Regions from separate parts of the Homo sapiens genome. Here region 1 is linked to region 2. Evidence: fine-mapped expression QTL. Tissue or cell type: blood mononuclear cells. Region 2 holds a variant in brackets; the other region holds the start of a gene. All regions are shown on one strand. Distances are from middle to middle.

Region 1 (8,176 bases), 29 kb after region 2:
CCACCAAGGCCCTCAGTCCTCTCGCTGGGGTGCCCCGCTGCACTCTTCTGCAGCGTTCTTTCTTTCTAAGAAATTTTCCTTTTTCAAACCTATACTGTTGTCAGTAAATTTTTTGCCAACCTGTGAGGCGACCACTTCCTGGTGCTGGGGCTCAGACACCTCACCAGGCATTTTGTGTTCTAGTGTTCTGCGTTTCCTCTTTGGCAATTAAGCTCACACACACACACACTCAACTGTCCCAAAGAAGAGAGTCACCTGATTCTAGTTATTCCGAGGGCTGTGTAAGCACTGATACACACACACACTGTCACACTTACACACATGCAACTGTCCCAAAGAAGAGAGTCACCTGATTCTAGTTATTCCAAGGGTTGAGTAAGACGTTAGTCAATCTCTAGGGAAGCCCTGCTGCTGGGCACTGGAGCTCAGAAATTTATCTCAAAGAATTAGAATTCATAAGGAGCTCTGTGTTTTGGAAAGAGGACACATTGTTTAGGACAGTTTCCATTCCAATTGTGCAGCATGAAATAGAAAAATTTAATAAGTGGGCCAATCAAGTATCTGGAATCCTTTGGATAAATTCATTTATTCAATTAATCCATACTGAGCTCTGGCTGGGCTCTGGACAAAATGGGAAGCAAAATTACTTTACAGCCATATAATAGAATAGTTTGTAGCCATTCAAAATGATTGTATCGATATTTATTGACCTGGAATATGTTCATAGTATGGGTAAACTTACAAACAATATATTATGAACCCAATAAAAATATATTTCAGGGATTGGCTGGGTGTGGTGGCTCATGCCTGTAATCCCAGCACTTTGGGATGGTGAGGCAGGCAGATCACCTGAGGTCAGCAGTTCAAGACCAGCCAGGCCAACATGATAAAACCTCGTCTGTACTAAAAATACAAAATTAGCTGGGCGTGGTGGCGGGCATCTATAGGAGGCTGAGGCAGGAGAATCACTTGAACCCAGGACATGGAGGTTACAGTGAGCTGAGAGCACGCCACTGCACTCCAGTCTGGGTGACAGAGCAGGAAAAAAAAAAAAAAAAAAAAAAAAAAAATATATATATATATATATATGTATATGAAAAAATCGGAAAGGTTCTACATCAAAATGGTAAATTTCGTGTTATATATATTTCACTATAATAAAAGATTGTAACAGTGGCTATCTCTGGATGCTGTTTTTATTATTTGTATTTTTTAGTTTTTTTGCAATGAATATGTGACAAGTAAAAGAATGACTACAAATAAAAGGAAACATAAAAAATTAAGTCTGATGCTCTTTTAAAGCCCATCTGATTCACTCTTGACTGCAGCTTTCTCTCCATCCACCCATCCACTGGAGCCGGCTTTCTGTGTCACTTTTTAAAGTCCATTTTTTTTTTTTTTTTGAGACGGAGTCTTGCTCTAATGCCCAGTGCAGTGGTGTGATCTCGGCTCACTACAACCTCTGCCTCCCGGATTCAAGCGATTCTCCTGCCTCAGCCTCCCAAGTAGCTGGGATTACAGGTGCCCGCCACTGTGCCCAGCTAATTTTTGTATTTTTAATAGAGACAGGGTTTCACCATTTTGGCCAGGCTGGTTTTGAACTCCCGACCTTGTGATCTACCCACCTCGGCCTCCCAAAGTGCCACCGCACCTGGCCTAAAGTCCATCCTTTAAGGCAACCATACTGTTGGGCTGGAAGCCAGGAGAGCCCCACTATAATAGGGCAGGGAGCCAGGCTAGGAATTGGAAACAGTAAGAATGCGAAACAGGATGAGGATTTGAAGACCCTCTTAAAAATGGGGGAAAAAAAAAAAGACTGCATTCCAAAAATAATGCAGAAAGTCAAGTCTTGGGAGGAAGGTTTGGTCTTAACGGTGAAATCTGGAAAAGGTATAGGAAGTACAATACTTGAAAAATACCCTGCAAAGATTTATTTTGGCTGGCAACATTCAGTAGATTACAGCTGTTTCTGTGGTTATTTTTGTAGATTAACATGGACCAAAATATGGCATCATCTTACTGGGTGTGTTCACTTCCCGACAGTTCTAGAACATGGTACTCGATCTGTCCTTGTTGCCTTCTAAACTATTCGAAGCAGACGCTGTATCAGACTTTCTAGCTTCTGAAATAAAGGCACAGGAATTACAGGGAAGCAGAGCAAGTGATCTGGGACGTGGAGGGTTTTTCTTCCATTGTGTGCAGTTTGGAAAGTTGCCATCTATTCAGGTTTCACTCAAACCGGCTTTTTCCAGACCCCAGAACAAATTGTAGCCAGAAGCTCTGCTCTTTGTCAGGAGGCAATTATACCCCAGACTTAGCCAGGAACTTGCCTCTTCCCTTAGAGAACAACTTCTCTTTATGTATAAGGATCCTGGCTCTCCTTTTACCCAGGGGGTTGGGATACAGCCTCTAGTTCTTTCTAGAAAGACCCCAACTGTCCCAGGGTTTCCATTTTGTTTTTTACCATTGCACAGGTCTCTGGATAATAACCTTCCTAATAGCGACTGAAATGTCTCACAGCCTTTCCTCGTTTTTGTTTCTCTTTAGCTAAAGAAAGCAAAAATAAATAATCCCCATCTTCATTGTTGGAAACCCCAGGCAATTAACCTTTTGAGGAGCTTCACACAAGATACAGATCTGTGAAGCCACATAGGTTGGCATTGAGTTTAACCCCTTGCCCAGAAAGTTAAGGTTAGGAAGCTTGGTTCCTATTTTCTGTTCAAATACTGCTTTCCTTTGTTAGAGATAAACTTTCTTTTAAGGCAAATAATCACTTATATGATAGAACCTTTAAAATAATCCTGTTGACTACAAACAGGATAGTGCAACTCTTCCAAATCTTGAATGTGGTGGTGACTGCATGACTGTGTATGGGTGTCAGAACATAAAACTAGCCACTAAAAAGGCTAATTTTTGGGGGGAAACCGTCTGCTCTGTCGCCCAGCCTGGAATGCAGTGGCACGATTTCGGCGCACTGCAGCCTCCGCCTTTCTCAATTCTCGTGCCTCAGCCGCGCCATCATGCCCGGCTAATTTTTTGTATTTTAGTAGAGGTGGGGTTTTGTCATGTTGGCCAGGCTGGTCTCAACTCCTGAGCTCAAGCGATCATCCCGCCTCGGCCTCCCAAAGTGGTGGGTTTAAAGGCGTGAGCCACCGCGCCCGGCCTAAAAAGGCTGATTTTTACTGTACCTAAAGTCTACCTCGATTAAGAAAACGAGGCCGGGTGCGGGTGAGGTCAGGAGTTCGAGACCAGCCTGGCCAACATGGTGAACCCCCGTCTCTACCAAAAATACAAAATTAGCTGGGCGTGGTGGCGCGCGCCTGAGCGAGAGACTCCATCTCCAAAAAAAAAAAAAAAAGTAAAGAGGTCGAAGCTGTCTAAGCGGACGCTGCGGTGGACTAGCGGTCAAGCTTGCCTGCGAGCGGCTCACCTGAGTCACCCCCAAAACCGGCCTCCAGCAGCATACCCGACCCTGCAGTACCCCCTCCCACGCAGCCTGCGATCGGGACGCCTGCAGGAGGCGCCAGAGTCTTCGCGGGGGTTGCAATCCCGCGCAAGGGCCCCCGGCTCCCAAGGCATCCGCAACCTTCCGATCCCCCGGGAAGGCCCTGCACGTCTCGGCCGCTCCCTGCCAGCAGCCCGCCCCGCCACTACACTCCGCCGCGGCCGCGCTGACGTCACCACCCCGCCTCCCCGCCTTGCTCCGCCGTTCCCGCCCCGCCCCCTTTCCCGGCGTGCGCCGCGGCTGAGGCTCCTCGCCCTCAGCTTCTGCCTGTCGCCCCAAAATGGCGGACACAATGAGCCGGCGACGCGCCGGTTGTCCGTGAGGTGGCTGTGAGGACGAACGGTCGGCGAGGCTCCACAGTCCAGGCAGAAGACCCTCGACCAAGCAGGAAGAAGAGGAGGAGGCGGCCCAACTGTTGGCCGACTTCCCGCTAGCCGCCGGCGCGGCGCCCGCCCCGCCTGGGTTGGCCCCTCGGCAGCCCGCCCGCTCGCCGCCGGGCCCCGCCCCGGCCCTGCGCCGCCGCTGCCTTCCCCAGCCGCCGCCATGAAGCTGACCGACAGCGTGTTGCGGAGCTTCCGCGTCGCTAAGGTGTTCCGCGAAAACTCGGACAAGATTAACTGCTTCGATTTCAGCCCCAACGGCGAGACGGTCATCTCGAGTAGCGACGACGACTCCATCGTGCTCTATGACTGCCAGGAGGGCAAGTGAGTGCGGCGGAGGCCCTGGGCCCGAGTCTCAGTGCCTCCCTCCGGTGGCCCAGCACAGGTCCCTCGGCCTGCCCTCCGTCCCGACTTCAGCCCCCAGCCTATTTTGCACGCGTTCCTGCCAGGGCCGCCTCCACCCCGCAGCCGTCCAGGAGACCTTTTATTTTTTTCTTCTTAAAAAAAAAAGATAACGATAGTCATAATTTTATAATATTATTTGTATGTCTTCGGTCTCCTTTGAGCGCTATGCATCACTTGCCAAACCCCACCTTGACCTTGACCTTTAAACGCCCGGTCCGCCCACCCTGGGCCCACCAGGTAGCGTTTTCAGCTCCTCAGGCTGTCAAAGGTGCTGGTCTGCTCCGGCCTCGACGCAGGACTGCAGGGGCTGCTTTTCTGCCTCCTTCGGCAGCGTCAGCTCTCTCTTGTGCTCTCTCCACTGTGACCTCGATTCCGCCCTGGCACTCCGCCCATCCCCTGCCCCTCAGCTTCCCGCGGCCTTTCTGCCGTCAGACCGCGTGGGTTGCACTTCTTAGCTGTCAGGATTTATTTGTTGTGCCCCTTTGAGCCCCCTTGCTTTTTCTTCCTGCTCCTAGCCTTTCTCTTACTCATTCAGACTTGGTGCCCACGTTCATAAGTGAACTTTTCAGCAACATCTAAAACTTCCTTTTTGCCACACACAAACGAACTTGGTCGTCCCATCCTGACCTGAATGTGAGCTTCCGTTAAAACAAAGCAAGCATCGTAGAACAATTTCAGGTTTCCTTTCATACTTTTTTTTTTCTATTACACTTTTTGGTCCACTTTGAATTCCAATTCTGATCATGAAACTTTTATGTTGCCACAAGTCATCTGGAGACCCACCATACCTGCATCTTTTCGCAAAATCTAAGCACAGCACTTTGCCTTTTTCCCTGGGGGTCCTTGTCAGCCCTCCTCACCGCACGCCTGTGGACTTGCAGCTCCTTGGAGCCAAAAACTAGTTTAGATTAAATTCGTTTTACCCTTAGCCACCTTCCCCAAGAAGGCTTGCTGATGTTTGGTTTAATTCGGTGGACCCTGGTTTTTTCAGACTTGATTTTGTCACCTAGTAACAGATATTATTATTATTATTATTATTATTATTATTATTATTTGAGATCTTGGGTTTTTCTCCACCTTCTCCAGCTGTTCCTTTTTCCTTTTTTTTTTTTTAGACTGGTGTCCTTCTTTTGGAACATATCTCTTCATTTGTGAATTTGATTATCTGAAGTAATGCTAGTTTGGACTGAGCTATAATGGTATCCCCCCAGTTTTTTTCCCCACTGGGGCTGTGAGAAAGTATTATGTAACCGGCTCTGGATCTGCCTGCAGTTTGTGGCAGAGTGGTCTGCAGTGGTGGTCTTAAGGAAGAGGGAATTGTTAGCTGGACAAATAGTTATTTGAGTCAGTGTTACTCATTGAGTAGATGGATTTCTGTCCTGGTCTGGTCACTTGAATCAGTTTAGAAGACGAAGTAACATTTAAAGGTGTGGTAGTAGGGTCAGCATTGTGGGGTCCTGGAGGAGTAATTTGAAGCTGGCTTGCATGAAATGTATAGTGCTTATGCACAGATTAGAACCTCTTCCCAGAACCTGAGGGTGGAGATGTATATCCTCATTTAAAGGAAATGAAGGTTGTTATAGCATTTCTTTGCAGTTTGTCCCCAAATTTGGCGTAATTTTGATTTGGGAAGGATGACCTTGACATGAAGTCCTGTCTTTCTTTTTTTTGTTTTTTTTTTTCGGGTGGGGGACGGAGTCTCTCTCCGTCGCCCAGGCTGGAGTGTAGTGGCGCGATCTTGGCTCACTGCAACCTCTGCCTCCCGGGTTCAAGCGATTCTCCTGCCTCACCCTCACAAATAGCTGGGATTACAGGCGCCTGCCACCATACCCTAACTTTTGTATTTTTAGTAGAGATGGGGTTTCACCATGTTGACCAGACTGGTCTTGAACTCCTGACCTCAAGTGATCCACCCGCCTTGGCCTTCCAAAGTGCTAGGATTATAGGCATGAGCTGCTGTGCCTGGCCAAATCCTGTCTTGTTAAAAGTAAAATGCTAGTTTTGTGACATAAGGCAGTTTATTTACTCGTAGCATTTTTACATAATTAGAAACTAACAAAGTTACAGTGTTTCAAAGAACTCCCATATGATTCAATAACTGGTTACATTTTCTGCATTTGCTTCATGACTGTAGGTAAATATTTATATGTACTGTGTGCCTCCCCCCACCTTTAGAGTTGGAGGTATCAAGCCCCTTTATCCCTAAACACTTCAACATGGATTTTCTTTCTTTTTTGAGATGGAGTCTCGCTCAGTCGCCCAGGCTGGAGTGCAGTGGCGTGATCTTGGCTCACTGCAACCTCCGGCTCCTGGGTTCAAGCGATTCTCCTGCCTCAGCCTCCTGAGTAGCTGGGATTACAGGTGCATGCCACCATGCCTGGCTAATTTTTGTATCTTTAGTAGAGGCAGGGTTTCACCATGTTGGTCAGGCTGGTCTTGAACTCCTGATCTCGTGATCTACCCGCCTCAGCCTCCCAAAGTGCTGGGATTCCAGGCATGAGCCACTGCGCCCGGCTCAACGTGGATTTTCTAAGCACAAAGACATTCTTATGTAACCAGAGCACAGTTATCCAAATTAGGAAATTTAGTACTGATACAATACTACAGGGCATGCTCTTGAGTTTTCTCTGATCAATTAATTGTAACCTTGTTTCATTATCTGTGGTGAAGGAGTGGCCTGGTAGTTAGGAGGGAACTGGGTACTAGTTTGGCCTGTGACTAGGTATGTGACATTGGTCAGATTACTTCTTTGGGTATTAGACAACCTCTTTAGTTTCCATTCTAGGCAATAATATGATGAAAAATTTTGTCACTAGTATAGGTCAAACCGACCTCAGAAGAAAAGAAGTATTTCCTTGGGAAGGCATGGTATTGTATCTTTTATTTATTTATTTTTTTGATAGGGACTTTCGCTCTTGTTGCCCAGGCTGGAGTGCAGTGGCTCCATCTCGGCTCACTGCAACCTCCGCCTCCCGAGTTCAAGCGATTCTCCTGCCTCAGCCTCCTGAGTAGCTGGGATTACAGGCATGCGCCACCACACCTGGCTAATTTTGTATTTTTAGTAGATGCGGGATTTCTCCATGTTGGTCAGGCTGGTCTCGAATTCCCGACCTCAGGTGATCCGCCGCCTCGGCCTCCCAAAGTGCTGGGATTGCAGGCATGAGCCACTGCGCCCGGCCTTTCTTTTTGTTTGTTTGTTTGTTTTGTTTTGTTTTGTTTTTGAGACTGCCTCACTCTTTCCTAGGCTGGAGTGCAGTGGCGTAATCTTGGCTCACTGCTGCAACCTCGCTGCTGGATTCAAGCGATTCTCGTGCCTCAGCCTCCCGAGTAGCTGGGATTACAGGCACCCATCAGTGTGCCTGCTAATTTTTGTATTTTTAGTAGAAATGGGGTTTCACAATGTTGGCCATGTTGGTCTCAACATCTTACCTCAAGTGATCTGCCCACCTCGGTCTCCTCGGCCTCCCAGAGTGCTGGGATTACATATGTGAGCCTCCGCACCCGGCCCTGTTTTTTTGTTTTGTTTTGTTTTGTTTTTTTGTTTGTTTGTTGTTAAGACAAAGGTCTTCCCCTGTTGCTCAGGCTGGAGTGCAATAGCATGCTTATAGTTCACTAAAGCCTTCATCTTCTGGGCTCAAGTGATCTTCCCACCTCAATCTCCAAAGTAGTTGGGCCTACAAGCACTCGCCAACTTACTTGGCTATTTTTATTTTTAGTGGAGACAAGTTCTCACCAGGTTGCCCAGGCTGGTCTCAAACTCCTGAACTCAAGCGATCCTCTCACCTAGGCCTCCCAAAGTGCTGGGATTACAGGTGTTAGCTACTGTGACCGGCCGAAGGCATAGTATCTTTATTAGATGACCCTAGTGTTAGAATTTGGGAGTTTG
Region 2 (8,176 bases):
CTGCCCTGCACAACACCAGCTCATTGTCAATCCCACAAACACCACCCACCCTGTTCCCACCCATCGCCCCTGCCCACCCACATGACACGGCATTGCCTGAATGGCTGCCCTGCCCATGCTCTGGGCATTCCTTTGCCCCTGTTGTTGCCTTCCCCTGTGGTGCCCTCTGTCCTCCAACAGGAACCTGGTGGTCCCCGGTGACCAGGGCTCGGGGAGGATGGTCACCACTGTCCTTTAAATCTAAAGAATTCCTCCTTGACACAAGCGCTGGTTTTCAACAGAGAAACAGAAGAAGCAGAGAGCACTGCAGAAGCCAGTTTTGTTGCTGCAGACAGAGGCTCTGGGATGGGAACGCATGGGAAAAGGCAGTGGGATGGCTTTGTCCTTTCTTGGGTGGTTCTTCTGATCTTTGAGGGAAGCCAGGGGTTCCTGCAAGCCCCTCGCCCCAGCCTCAACACCCTGCAGCCTTGTGGGAAAAGTATGGGCACCCCAGACAATGATGCGTTTCTAAAGGGTCTGCTACCCTCCAAGGGATCTGGGGCTCAGCGGGGCCCTCAGGCTCAGGAGGGACTCCCACCACCAGGGCCATTTCACAGGCATGGCAGGTCCACTCGTACCCCTGAATGAGAGACTTGAGGAGCAGGGGGACCAGAGGGGAGGGGCTGGGGCTGAGCAGAGAACTGATTCAATAACCAGCCGGGCAGACCCTGCACGTCATTGTGGCTTTGCCATCCCAAGAAAATGTCACTTCTTCCCCATGGACATTCTTCTCTGCGATTAGCTCTCCATCTACACCGGATGTGAGTGGGGTGGTGGCAGGGTCAGCTACCTGGGGCCAACAGATGGGTACCATTGATGTACCAGTGGTACAAGACTGTATGACTGGGCAGCCCAAGCCAGAAGGAGCACAGCGTCCACCTCTGCAGCTATTCATCCTTACTATGGGTTAGGAACCAGTTACTAAGCAATTAGCATGTGGCCAGGTGTGATGGCTCATACCTGTAATCCCAGCACTTTGGGAAGCCAAGGTAGGAGGACTGTTGAGTCCAGGAGTTTGAGGCAAGGTAGGAAGACTGTTTGAGCCCAGGAGTTTGAGGCCAGCCTAGGCAACATGGCAAGACCCCCATCTCTACAAAAAATTTTTTAAAATTAGCTGGGCATGGTGACATGCGTATGCCTGTAGTCCCAGCTATTTGGGAGGCTAAGGTGGGAGGATCGCTTGAGCCCAGGAGGTCAAGGCTGCAGGGAACCATGATCATGCCACTGCACTCCAGCCTGGGCAACACAGTTAGACCCTGTCTCTGAAAAATAAAATAGAAAAGTTAGCATATGCCATGAGGTTTATACACATGTCATTTAATCCTCACACCAATCCTAGAAGGGGGTAGCTATTACTGTTTCCCTTTTTGCAGGTGGGGACACTGAGACTCTGAGAGGTGAAGCTGGTCGGGGAAAGGGGATTGGCAGACTTGGCCTGGGTAGTAGGGGAGGGTAGGAGGCAGGGCTGAGTCAACTGTTGGAAGAAGACAGATTTGGGCTCATGATACAATATTTTTATAATGGTCCCAACCAAAGGACTGGGCTGCCCAGATGGCAGGAGCTCCCTGTCATGGGAGGCATGACAGGGGAAGCTGAATGGGCACCTTTCCTGTCATTTGGACACCTGAATGGAAAGAGAGTACCTATCAGGAGCAAATGAGCCCTAAGGTGTCAATCCTGGCCCCAGCCCAGTGCTGGAAGGTATAGAGAAGACAGCACCTCCCAGGTAGGGGTTGAAGTGCCCAGGGGGCACACCCTGCTGAGAACTATGCCCCCATTGTCCCATCTCCAGGGGCGGCTTCCACTTTCCAAGATGTGTCTTTCTTAGCGAGAAATTTCAGGACACCTGAGAGAGGCACAAGGGGGAACACAAGGCTGGTAGCGAATTCCCCCAATTTTTCACCCCAGGCACTTCCCTTGTCTCATCCTAGTCCCAGCCTGTGGGGACATCTCAGAGCCCAACCCCACTCCCAAGGCCCCTCTCTGCAAGGCTGACAGCCTCCTCCTACCCCATCCCTTACACCCAACCAGTGCAGCAAGCCCCATCGGTTCTCCTCCTAAATATCCCTCAAATCTATCCACTCCTCTCTGGATCCACAGATGCAGCCCTGGCCACCTCCTCCCTCGCCTCCCAGTCACCAGTGCCAGTTCATTTTCTACCCAGCAGCCCCACAGTCCTCCCTGATCTGGCCCCACTCTCCCCACTCAGTGCCCTCATGCTGTCCTCCAGCCAGAGGGAAGCCCTTTCAGTTCCTGACACACACCCTGTCCCCCTGTCTCCTGCATCACATTCACTGCAGATTGGACATCTTTCCTCCCAGGACTGGGTTAAACACCCCTAGGTGCCCACAGCCATGGCAAAATTGTGTGGCCAGAGTCATTAACATGTCTGCCTCCTTGGAGAGACCAAAGGTGCCATGGGACAGAGTCCAACCTGTCTTGCCCAGCCTATATTCCCATCCCCTGGTCCTGCTGCCTGGCACAGAGGAGATGTTCAGTGAGCAACAGCTGAATGCATGCAAGCATGAATGTATGAATGTGAGTGTGACTGAGGCTGAGAGGGCTGTCCCACACAGGCAGGTCCCCAAGGACAGCTGAGTCCAGAAGCCATGACAGAAAGTGGACTGAGGGAGACGTTTGGGTCAGGAGACTAACTGAGCCAACAGGTCCTCTGTGGAGGCCTGGACTTGCGTAGCCCCCACTCCTGCCCTGAATCACAAAGAGGCGACAGCTTAAGATCCATGCACCTGCCAGAAGGGACAGGAATGGGGGATTCAAGCCAAATAGAGTGAGTGAGGCAGATTCCTAGAGGTCTTTCCCACTCCCTCTGGCCCACAGATTCCCTTTTAGCAAAGTCACTTTAAAGTCTTTCCTGGGGACTGTGATGGGGTGTGAGGGAACTGAGCCCAAGGCCAAAAGACCAGCCACAGTGCACCTCCCCTACTCAACCAGAGGGGAAGATGCCTCTTTGTGGCTTTGTGCACACACACACACACACACACACACACACACACACATATACACAAAACCTCCCCCACACAGAGACGGAGCAGGGCCTCCCTGGGCCTGGGAGACCTTGAACCTCCAGTCACCACTCTCTCTGTGTGGCCCCTGGCTTCCTCGTACCCCTCCCAGCTCAGCGACAGCCTCCTGAACTTCCTGGCGGGCTTCCAGGCCTCAGAGAAAGCCGCTGTCTCTGCCACACCATTACTGTCACCATCACTGCTGCTGCGAAAATGCAATTACAGCAAACAACAGCCGCCGCCTCACTTGAGCCTCGCCATCCACACCTGGAACTAATTAACTTAATTAGGCCTTAATGAGCTACACTGGTCGGAATGCCTATTTTTACTTAATTATCCCCTAATGTGCTTGGCATGGAGGAGCACAGGACCCGGAGGATGGCTTTGGCGGTGGCGGTGGCAACCACCTCCTCTCCCTGAAGAAGAGACACTCAGGAGGTGATGCCTGTCTGCCTGGGGCGGGCCCCAAAGAGCTGAGAATCACAGGAGGATGGGTGAGGCAGGGGCCACGGGCCACGCTGCAAGAACAGCAGCCCACCCAGCTCCAGCCTCCCATCATTCCCACTGCCCCGTCTGAGCTGGGGCTGAAGCCACACTTTGCTCAGTTGGGGGTGTAACAGGCATGACCTGGCTAGCTTTTGCATTCACAGACCTCTGACAGGGGAGGACATGGGCTCAGAGAGTTACTCTTCCAACTGCCTATAATGGGAAGGCACAGAGAGATGAAGGGCTTGCCTGAGGACACACAGCTAACTGGTGGCAATGGACGTGAATGGCTCTCAGGCCCTTTGAAGGAGCACTTTAAGCCATGACGGGGTCCTGTCAGGGTGGAGTCTAGACTCTTTCACACCAGGCCAGGCCAGGCTAGGATAAGCAGAGGATCACTTAGACAGCTGGCCTCCAGGGTCCCTACGGCAGCACCTTCCACCCCCAGTTGGGCCTTGGCTCCTGAAAGCCAAGTTTACATCATCAACTTCTCTAGCTTTGGGGTGGGGTGAGGTGGTCTTGGTTCACTAGACAGATATGGGGGAGGCTTCAAGAGCAGGGTCCTTCCCTGCTGGCCCCTGCTGGCCTTGACCCTGCTGGGGCCTCCAGATCAATGGCTCATTGATCAATGGCTCCAGATCAATGGCTCATTTGAATCTCTGGGTTCCTGGGGCTGGAGGGGTACCCTGTCCCTTGTGTAAGCAAAATACATCTCTATGCTAAAGATGGATCAATCTCTGGGGCAACCCCCTCTCTGGAACTCTAGGCTTATATCTGACAACTGTTTCCCTTGGCACCTCCAGCCC[TATCCAGCCCC/C]AGGAGTCCCAGTCCTAACACAGACAACCCAGAACCCTTGATTTCCCTCTCCCTGGTCTGCTTTTCCCAGCATCCCCCTCTTCTGAAAATGGCCATGCCATTTGCTCATGTGCTTAAGCCAGAAACTGAAGAACTGCCCTGGACAACCCTCTCTCACACCCTACAGCCAACCCTTCCTGAAGTCCTGTTGGCTCTGCCTCCAAATAACATCCCCAAATGCCAGCTTCCCACCACCTCCCAGCAAGCACCCAATCCTGGCCACCATCCTCTCTCATCTCGACAGTGTCTCCCTTGGTCTTCATGGAGCCTCCACAATCTGGTCTCCATGAGGCTGTCACAGTGATTTAAGGGAAAAAACCACTCCCTAGTTCAAAATCCAATGACTTCCCATGGCACTTAGAATAAAGTCCACAGGCCTTAGCCCAACCGACAGAGCCCCACCTGCCTCGCTGGTCCCATCCACCTCCTTTCCCTTCTCCTTGCCCCATTGACGTGGGCTGCCCTTCAGGACCTCACAGGCCTCAGGGCCTCTACACTGCCTACTCCTTCTGCCTGGAATGCTCTTCCCCCTGACCTTTGGATCACTCAGATCTTGGCTTAAACATCATTGCAGCCTTCTCTGGCCCCACGCCCTAAAGTCTCCTCCTAGGCCCTAGCCCTGTTAGATCGCCTCCTAGATCACCATGTTAGAATCTTCTCCGTGGTACCTGTTAGCATCTGAAAATGCTGTGTCTCTGTCTCCCTTGAACGTCATCTGTTTTGATCCCTACTGAATCCCCAACCTATAAACCACATGCCTGGCACACTGTAGGAACTTTTTGCTAAATGGGTGTTAGAGGAATGCCTTGACTTTTTCACAAGTGATTAGAGTCCCCAGCCCCTTCCTTGAGCTGCCCAGAGCCCACCCAAATACCTCAGGCCAGAGCATAGTATTCTTGAATCCTACGTCCTGGCCCCCAGCCTCTGCTCACACGGTCCAACCACCTGGAATGCCCTTTTCCTATCATTTGCCAACGGAAATCTGGCCTGCCCCCAGACTTCTGACCAGTGAGGGAGTGGGTGGGGACCACCACCTGTTTGAACTAGTGAGCTTGACTTGGCCCTTGGCCTTGGCTCTTCCTGAGATTTATCTCTGCCTACTCTTTGGAGAGAACTCCTTGGGCCTGTGTCTGTCTGGACTCTAAGGACATGAGCCTCTGGAGGTGCTGGCCTTCATCTCTGCCTGCTCATTGCTCCCCATTCCTGCCCCAGTAGCCAATCCCAAGGTGGCTGGCCTAGAGTCAGCACATAGCAAACATTTGATGAAGGAAGGAGGGTGGGTAGGTACATGAGGTCCCCCAGCTGTAGGTCCCATCTCAGGGCTGAGGATGTGGCCAGGTCTGAGTATGAGCCTAGGCAGCTAGCCCAAGTGAAGAGAGGCTGCCTCCAGCTCTACCCAGCCCCAGGAGGACCAGTCCTAACACAGACAATTCAGGATCCTCCCACCAGCCAGCATTCCCCTATGACTATGGCTATGCCATTTCTTCCTTGGCCTCAGGCTCCCCTCCTGTGCTAGTCCTCACCTCCTTGGCTTGAAAGGGCCTCTTTCCTGAGGCTGAAAAGTCCAGGGGCACCAGGCCAGATGGCTTGGTGCTCAGGACCTTCTGGCCCTCTGGCCACAGCCCCCACCTCCTCTGAGAGGTGAGAGTGGGCTCCTCTCTCCTCCTGGCAGCACTGGCCTCTGCCAGTGGATCTTCACTGTGCCATCTCACAGCTTATGCCCCAGCGTTCATAGAAATAAGGGGATTTTAGTCTTGTTGTGACTATTGCCTGTAACCAGAGCTGCCCACCAGCCATCTGTGCGCCCACCCCACCTGTGCCCTGCCTGAGGGGCTAGGCCCCTGGAGACAGTTCTGACTGGCAATTCCCTTTGTCCAGGCTAGACCCTCTGCCCTTCTGAACTGGAGAATCTCTGTCTCCCATCTAGAAGGCCTGGACTCTGGGTGTCATCCCAGACCTTCCCACTCAGTGGTACCCGATCTTACCAGCAGTATTCCCAGCTGGCTGAACCCTGGTCTCATCAGAGCCCCTCCCACCCTGGATCCTAGATCTAGAGCCATGCGGTCAGGGCAGGACAGACTTGAGGACGCTCAGTGTGAGGGGAGTCACTAACCTGCAAGGACCAAAGCCGGGGTTTGGGACTTGGTGCTGTCCTTTACTGGGTCTTGCTGCCTTGGTTTATCCACCTAAGAGGCAGAGACATTGTTGTCATTTAGCAGGATGTAGGTGACGCCCATGAGATGGAAGCATGAAGTGCGTTGTAAACCTAGCATTGGTGACTTCACCTGAATTGCTATTGAGGTGGAAGCAGGGAGTTGAGGGGTTTTAAACACCAGTCTAGCCTCTAAGAAGGCTGTGGTTCCAGCACTGCAGGCTGAGCACAGGGATCAAGTGAGATCACAGGGCCTAGGAAATGGATTCCCTTCTCTGCAGCCAGGGACCTTCATCTGTTTCATTTATGCAATGGGGCTAACCCAGAAAGGGGCAGGTCACAAAGGGAAGGGACAGCTCTGAGGACATAATCTGGAAGGAGGGAAGAGGGATGGCAAGTTCCTTGGGTCCCACCTCCCAGGGGGCTCTGGATAGGCCCAGGATGTCTGAGATCATGCAGTGTAAACTCTCTCCTTTGACAAGAGGAAACAGACCCAAGGGAGAAGTTCAGCCCAGGTCATCCTGCTGGGCCAGAAGTAGGGTTGCTAGGGGCTGATATCGGTTCTAACAGCACCTCCTTGAAGGCCCTGGAGCCTCAGTTTCCCTACCCGCACAATGGTGGCACTGACTCCCATCTTCCTTTCTTCCCTTCCTCCCCACAATGGCCCCCACTCAAGAAAGCTGTGAGGTTCGCTGAGGTTCACCGAGGGGAAGGCTGTGGACAGAGTCAGGGCTCTGCCTCCTAGCCCTGTATAAGGTGGAGGAAAGGCTGAGGGAGCCAGGAGCCTGGGGACCACCTCAGTAACTCCAAAGGCAGCCCCACTCCTTCCAAGGGAAAGAGGCCATTGGGCAGGAGACCTCCTTGGGGGTGAGGGGGAATATGCCCAGGCTTGGGGAGTCTCCAGCCATAACAGGCTCCCTCTTGGGGTTGGCACTGCCATGACTGGCTCTACCACCTTCCTTGACCTAAGCCCCACTTTCCCCATGAATCCAATGAGGATAACAGGGATCATCCCAGTCCTGCCAGTCTGTGGCCTCCTGGGGCCACGAAGAATAGCCTACTGGCCAGTGGGTATCAGATGGTGGCTCTTATGAACAGCAAAGCCCTAAAGAGAGACAAGACAGCCTGCTAATGGTGGCATTTCAGGCAGAGAACTTGGGGGCAGAGGAGCCTGCAGTGCTCAGCCCCCTAATCGCAGACACTCCAGCCAAGCCACCGCCTCTGCCTTGCCCTGGGGCTGGGGTCAAGGGTGGCAATGTCTGTTGAGGATGTGAGTAGGCTCAGTCAGGGACTCCATTAGCCCAGGAAACTGCCTTTCTGTCCCCACTTACTCTTCTCTCCTAGGCTATGGGCTGCCTGCAGTCACCTCACACACACAGCAGCCGCCACCATCCACCCATCTCCCTCCCTCCAAGCAGAGGCAGCTGCTAGGCCTCCATGCTGGAACCAAAATTGAATGAGCGCTCTCACAATGTCGCCTCCCGCTGACAGCTCCTAATTGCATGTTGAAGCCATGTGATGGAGCCCGAGTTACACTAATTATGTCATTACCCTAATTAAGTAAATACTGTACGTGCTAATTGGCTGAAATCTCTTCAGGGGGATGGGCACTGGTGTCCCC

Evidence for each region. PIP is the estimated chance that this variant, and not a neighbour inherited with it, causes the effect.
Region 1: it holds the start of WDR82, and the variant in region 2 is fine-mapped to the expression of WDR82 in blood mononuclear cells (TOPMed, PIP 0.97).

The regions. Positions count from the first base shown.
Region 1 is chr3:52,274,234-52,282,409 of GRCh38, reverse strand. It overlaps WDR82 (WD repeat domain 82), which reads left to right and starts at 3,761. Exons shown (of 9, transcript NM_025222.4): 1 at 3,761-4,209. The coding sequence starts at 4,049. LOC107986086 (a long non-coding RNA gene) reads left to right here. Exons shown (of 3, transcript XR_001740699.2): 3 at 1-92. RefSeq lists enhancers at 3,138-3,769, 4,239-4,338, 4,749-4,828, 4,849-4,898, 4,402-5,034 and silencers at 3,499-3,788, 3,969-4,048.
Region 2 is chr3:52,302,809-52,310,984 of GRCh38, reverse strand. It overlaps a transcript of DNAH1 not described here. Among named protein-coding and RNA genes, the nearest start is that of DNAH1, 9.4 kb to the left of the region's middle. RefSeq lists an enhancer at 1-366. The variant TATCCAGCCCC/C (reference allele first, on the strand shown) is at 4,355.